2 linked regions of the Homo sapiens genome follow. The protein of the gene in region 2 purifies or fractionates together with the protein of the main gene of each other region. This does not show direct contact. Each region holds a gene or a part of one and is shown on either strand. Other genes may lie near its edges.

Region 1 (3,500 bases), on a different chromosome or scaffold from region 2:
GAGAGATTAAGCAACCCCATGCAGATGACATGACTTGGCAGAAGTGGGGCTGGGCCCAATATCTCGGTCTGAGATTGCTGCCTACCCAGGGCCCTTACCCTGGGAGTCTGGGATGGGCTTCAAAGGCTCTGGTATCCCCAAAATTATACACAAAGTGTGGGTTGTGTGCATATGTGCAGGTTTTGGAGAGAGGGTCCAGCATTTACATTATCTTTTCAGAGGGACCCACGACCCCAAATGATTAAGATCCAAGGACCCATGCCTCAGCATCAAATGAGGGAGGCTGTGGGAATCAAAACACAACCACAATTGCTAAGCTGTTGCTGCTTTTTTTTTCTTTTTTTGAGAGATGGGGGTCTCACTATGTTTTCCAGCCTAGTCTCAATCTCTTGGTCTCAAACAATCCTCCTGCCTTGGCCTCCCAAAGTGCTGGGATTACAGGCATGAGCCACTAAGCCCAGCCTGCTAAACTGCTTTATGAAAATATCTTGAGCCTCCACCTTAACTCTCCCTCCCACCATGTACTACCTTCCCTTGCCCAAACCTAAACCCTTTTATCTGAGTTGCTAAGAGGCAGCAACAGCAAAACGTGTCAGTTTTTGCTCCCCATCTCTCCCCAACTCCAGTGATCTCTTTGGTTGACACGAGATGATGGCTAAATGGCCTGACATAGGGAGAAAAAGGTGGTGAAAAATCACAGGCTTGGAGAATTGAACCCATAGTAAAGCTTTGGCTCTTCCACTCTGAGTCAGACCACAGGGAGATTTCTCCCTCAGACTGGTCCTCCAAAGAGTTCTTCATAGGACAGGAGAAGGTTAGGGGTCTCCTTCAGAACTCATGGATGACTCTACCTAAAATTGGGCTGCTTTTTTAAGGTTACCATCACCACCTCTTAAAATAACGGGTCCCAGCCCACTACCTACAGGGGGAGGTGGAACTTCCTCCATTTGTTCCAGGCTTCCTCCTCACCAACTTGGCTTATAAGGGTTTTCCCTGACTCAAACCTTTCATGGCTTTGGGAACATGGGCTATGTCCCTTTCCGGATGCAGAACAGTTCACCATCTTTAGTCTGCCTTCATATAGGAGCCTATCCCTTCCCTCTCTGCTCCCATAAGCTATCCGTTTGACCACTTTAATGCCTTTTTCCTGAAGACTGTCTTCATTGAGTGGTTGATTCACTTCAGGTTCAGGACAATAAGGTCTAATACAAGACTAGAATCATCTTTTCTGTACTGTTTCTAATACTTTTCTTGACAAGACCAGGGCTCTATTAAACATTTTGGCTACAGCAAAACTTTGGCAACAGATTCAGTTGTCTTGGTCTCTGTGCACCCTTGAAGGGGTGCACTTCAAACTCCATCCCTCCCTCTTCCTCTCTAGATAGCTTCGGTTTTAAAAAATCTTTTTAGTCCTCTGAGGTCCTCCCCTTGAATTCACAGTTACCTATATCTACGGGACTGCTCAGATATTTATCTTGCTAAACTATTTTAGTTATTATACATTTATCATCAAAGAAATACCCACAGTGTGTGCTCCAGAAAGACTACTACTTCACTGCATGGGCACATAATCTAGCAGTTAAAAAGAATATAAAAAGCAGGAAAACATAATGACCATTTAGGTCAAGCCATGGTCAATCTAAAATGAACAACCATGACCTAGTAAATCTCAAGCTGGTCAGAAAGAAGGTGGTAAATGGTAAAACACAGCCATGATCTTTTGTGGATCCTCTGATAAAGAGGTGGAGTCTAATTTCCCCTCAAGTCTGCTTTGAATTCAATGTAATTTTCTTTTTTTTTCTTAGAGACAGAGTCTTGCTCTGTCGCCCAGGCTAGAGTGCAGTGGCGTGATCACAGCTCACTACAACCTCAAACTCCTGGACTCAAGTGATCCTCCCACCTCAGCCTCTTGAGTAGCTGGGACTACAGGTGCTCACCACCATGCCTGGCTAAATTTTTAATTTTTTATAGAGATGGGGTCTTGCTATGTTGCCCAGGTGGTCTTGAACTCGTGGCCTCAAGCAATCCACCCACCTTGGCTTCCCAAAGTGCTGGGATTATAGGCATGAGGCACTGTGCCTGGCCTCAATCTACTTTGAATAGAACACATTGGAAGTGACACTGTGTGAGGTCTACAGCTTAGGACTCACTTCTGCCTTCATCCTCCCGAAATGCTCCCACTGCCTCATAAGAAAGCCAAGGCTAGGCAAGTGCATGAAGAAAGATCACATGGATGGAGAAGCCCAGCAGACATCAGCATCAAGGCCCCAAGGTATGAGAGCGACTACCATGGACCCTCTGCTTCAGCTGGCCTGCCGGTTTCCCACAGCCACATGAGTGAGCCGACACAGGACCAACAGAACGGACCAGTGAAAACGAAAGTAGTTCTTGTGTAAGCCACTAAGTTTCTGGGTTGTTTGTTACCCAGCAAGAGAGAAACAATAGGAAGAAGGACACTAGGAGCGGCAGCTGGCATTCACCTATGGCTTTGGCCAGGAACCTGATGCTGTTGAGATTCTTCACTTCCGTTCGAACGCCCAAAGGCTCCCCAGGGTGATGCACGGATATATTGGCATCCACTCTCAACTGGCCCTCTGGAAGGAGAGAAGAAAACAACTCCTTAGAAATTCTTTGAGGTGACATAGTCTTTTAAAGGCAGGGAGTGTCAAAGGAAGCAGCATCTAACTCTACCTGCTGTTTAGTTATAGCAGCCTAACTTCAGAGAAGGCACGGTTGGTTCTGAAGTAGGTCGTGGCTGGTACTTCTGGCCACTCGAGAGGGGTTACAGTCCTGAGGCATCTACAGTGTGTGCCTGTACATGTGAACATATACAGATGTGTGTGCTTATGCACATATGGAAGAGAAGTTTTAGATTCGCCAGCTGGAGAGATCTAATTTTTTTGTGCTAAACAAGAAAAACAAAACTATTAAAATGGAGATTGACTCTGCAGTTTTATACTGAAGTTTTTTTTCAAAGTGTCAGAGCTGAGTTGGAGGAAAGGCCTCATATATCTGATAACCCTACACTGCTCTCCATTGGAATGTGGATTTCTAACAGTGATTCCAGGAGATTTAGAGGAGAGTCCTTGAGAATTTGCAGCTCAAGGGCAAGAACTGAAATCTGGGCTTTCCCCCCTCCTCCTTCCTCCAGGTACTGTAATAATCTCTTCCTTCCACAAACATGACTCCGAATCCTTCCTGACTGCTCTAACGATTTGCTACAGCAGACAGACAGCACTGTTACGAAGTCAGGAGTCTGTGGTGGGACTCAGAGAGGTGCTGACCCCATGCTGGGAGGACCTTCTTTGACCCTGGAGGCCCCTCAGATTAGGAGCAACAAGCCCTAAAGAAGCAGGCAATGTGTGGGGAGGACTAAAAGGCTCTTGAGGAAGAGAGAGAGAGAAAAATCCCAAGACAAATAGATGTAGGTAAGAAAGAATCACATTTGGCACCCTACAAAGTAAAGCTCTCAGATTCTCTGTTCCTCGTTTCATTTACAA
Region 2 (3,388 bases):
AAGGCCAACTCTGAGATGGAGTGTAGGGTGCAGAATGTTGAGTAATGAGTGCTCTTGGAATCAACAACTGAGGAAGACAGAAATATGCAGGATTGGGCACAGGGAGAAGTTCAGCTGCAGTGCAGGCCCAAGGGTAGTTGCAGCTGAGCCTTCAGGAAGTTCTGGAGCCAGAGTAGCCCTTCTGAGTTGTTCCAAGCACTGAAGGCCTAGCAAGTTCCAGGGGTATTAAAATCAATAAGCCTGTCAGCCCCGACAATGCCCTCAATAGGTCTGGGCACAGATTGGAGAGAAGCTGGGCTCCCACTGCACCAGGAGGGAGTGGCCCAGAGCCACTGAGCCATGGAGACTCAGGCAGGGGGTTGCTCCAGCACTTCTTCTGGAGAAGTTTTGAGCCCCAGATGCAGTTAGCACAGTTGCCCGCCCCTTATCATAAGACGAAGTCCGTTCCCACCACATCTTCTGCAAGACCTAGCTGGGGACCCCGAGACACTGGCAAAAAAGCAAATGTAAATCCAGCTTTATTGGTAAAAAAGGAATAGCAGATTTAATCAGAAATTCCCACCTGGCCCAGCAGCACCAACCAGAAAGAAGGGAAGAAGAGAGGAAAAAACCACAGGAAGAAAGAAAGGAGGGAGGGAGGGAGAGGAGGAAGGAAGGAGGAGGGAAGGGAAGGGGGGAAGAAGGGAGGGAGGGAGGGAGGGAAAGAAAGAGGGAGGAAGGGCAGAGGGAGCAGGGAGACTGTAGATCAGGGTCTGAATGGAGATCCGGTCCTGGAAGTAAATGATCCAAGGCTCCAGGTGCTGGGAAGAGAGCAGGAGGGGAGGGCGGCCCATGGCACTGCCATCTAGAAGGGTAGTGGCTCTTCCACAGGAATGTTGAGGATGACATCCATGTCTGGGGTGCACCTGGTGGGAGGCAGCACAGAAGGCCATGAGAGACCAGAGGTGGCGGTGTGGGAGCACCCACTCAGAGGAGCCCTGCTCTTTAGAACTCTGGTACGTACTTGGGTTGGGGGGCAATCCCAAAATACAATCTGTGATCTATCTGTGACCTCAAAGCCCAACTGTGCATACACAAGCATACACACACACACACACACACACACACACACACACACATACACACACATCAAAAATGGAAAAGAAATGAGTTTGGCAGGACAAATGTTCCCCTGACAAGTCTGAGGTCAAGAGGGAGCAGGAACTCAGCTCTGAAATGCTGAGGGCCCTCAAGATGATCACTGGCTTTGGAGTGAGGATGACAGGTTTGATAACTTTGACCTGTGTCACCTTGAGCAAGCTATTTCTACTCTCCCAGCCTCACTCCTTCAGTTGGCACTTAAGTGAAAAGCACTCATTAAGTCCCAGACCCCAAGTGAGCCTCAGTTTCCTCATCTGTCAAATGGGTTTAATATTCTAACCTCAGTCATTGGTGGAAAGATTAAATGAGACCATGCCAGCAGGTAATAAGTGCTCAGTAAATGACAGGCATTATTATTTCCATGAAAGTAGCAAGAGAGATGGATTCCCATCAGCAATATATTCCCCATTGCAGGGACCAGCACAAATATTTAAGAGGCTGAAGGATTACATTCTGTTTCACTCTCTTTTCTCTCTTCCAAGGAGACCATCCTCTCTCATGGTTTCAATAATCTGCTGATACACATGAAGTATTTAGGCAGGAAATGTCAGGATACTTGCAATTTACAAATACTATTAAAAAAATGAACATGAAACCAACATAGAAAAAAAAAAAATTTCTAAATCTAGATGGGCAAAACTGGCTATTCATTATATCATTCTCTCTTCTTTATATTTGAAATTTTTCATAATAATAGTAAAAAAAAAAAGTTCATCTCTATGCTGGCAACACCTAAATTTCTACTTCCAGCCAATATCTGTCCTCTGAGGTCTACACTCATCTTGTCAATTGCCCACCCAATGACTCCACCTTGGCACCTCATATAAATCAAACTTACTGTCCAAGTCAACTGTATGGTTTTTGTTTTGTTTTGTTTTGTTTGAGACATGGTCTCACTCGGTCACCCAGGCTGGAATGCAGTGGTGCAATCACAGCTCACTGCAGCCTGGAACTCCTCAATCGATCCTCCTGCCTCCCAAATAGCTGGGACCACAGGCACGTGCCACCACATCTGGCTAATTTTTTAATTTTTTGTAGAGATGGAGGTCTCACTATGTTGTCCCCCTGGTCTCGAACTCCCAGCCTCAAGCGATCCTTCTTCCTCATCCTCCTAAAGCACTGGGATTACAGGTGTGAGCCACCATGCCTGCCTCCAAATAAACTTTTTGACTGTGCCTACATACACATCCCTCACCCCGCCCCAGCCTTCCCAATCTCTGCATTTGACATCACCACCACCCCATTATAAAAGTCAGGAACCCAGGGGTTATTCTTGATACCTCCCTTTCCTGTACTTCCCAAGTCATGCAAGTCCTTCTTACTTTCCTAAATATTTCTCCAATCTATCTATTTCTCCCATTTCTTCTGCCACACTCTTGGCCAGGCCACTTCCCATGTTCCCCTGGACAACTGCCCTCACACCCACTAGAATTCCAGCTGCCATTCTGGCTCCTTGCCAATCTCATCCCCATGCTCTTTTCTTTTCTTTTAAGAAAGAGTCTTGCTCTATTAAGCAGGCTGGAAGGCAGTAGCACCATCTTGGCTCACTACAACCTCTGTCTCTAGGGCTCAAGCAATCCTCCTGCCTTAGCCTTCACTGCAGCTGGGACTACAGGCGCACGCCACCACGCCTGGCTAACTTTTGTATTTTTTGTAGAGATGGGGTTTCACCATGTTGCCCAAGCTGGTCTTGAACTCCTGGGCTCAAGCAATCCTCCCACCTTGGCCTCCCAAAACGCTGAGATTACAGGCATGAGCCACCACACCCAGCCCACCATGCTCTTTTCAAACTGACTTTTTTGGAATACAAATCTGATCATGTGGCTTAAGATCCTTTGCTTCTGGGATCAGGCAGAACATCTGGGCCTACAGGGCACTGCATGGAGGTCCCTAGGGGCTGAGTTGCCCTGCTCCCTTCCCGCCACTCTCCCTGTCACTCTGCATTCCAACCACTCTGGCCTCACTCAGCTCCGTGTCAATGCCAAGTTCCTTCCAACCATAGCTCCTTCACAGCTCAAGGCTCAACATGTGGTTGGTTCATAGAGCAGTAACATAAGCATCACCGGGTAGCTTCTTAGAAATGCAGAATCAGGCTGGGCATGGTGGTTCACACCTGTAATCCCAGCACTTTGGGAGGCCAAGGCAGGCAGATCACTTGAGGTCAGGAGTTTGAGACCAGCCTGGCCAACATGGCAAAACCCCGTTTCTACTAAAAAACATAAAAATTAGCCAGGCATGGTGGTGCACA

Evidence for each region.
Region 1: the proteins of C20orf96 (region 2) and GATB purify together in Homo sapiens (affinity purification with mass spectrometry; one large-scale study listed by BioGRID and IntAct). This does not show direct contact.

What each region holds. Positions count from the first base shown.
Region 1 is NC_000004.12:151,705,508-151,709,007, forward strand, and holds part of GATB (glutamyl-tRNA(Gln) amidotransferase subunit B, mitochondrial isoform 1 precursor), read right to left. Parts: intron 2,595-3,500; coding exon 2,481-2,594; intron 1-2,480. UniProt on the Homo sapiens protein: Allows the formation of correctly charged Gln-tRNA(Gln) through the transamidation of misacylated Glu-tRNA(Gln) in the mitochondria. The reaction takes place in the presence of glutamine and ATP through an activated gamma-phospho-Glu-tRNA(Gln).
Region 2 is NC_000020.11:270,363-273,750, forward strand, and holds the end of C20orf96 (uncharacterized protein C20orf96), read right to left. Parts: intron 906-3,388; coding exon 845-905; 3' UTR 501-844; downstream 1-500.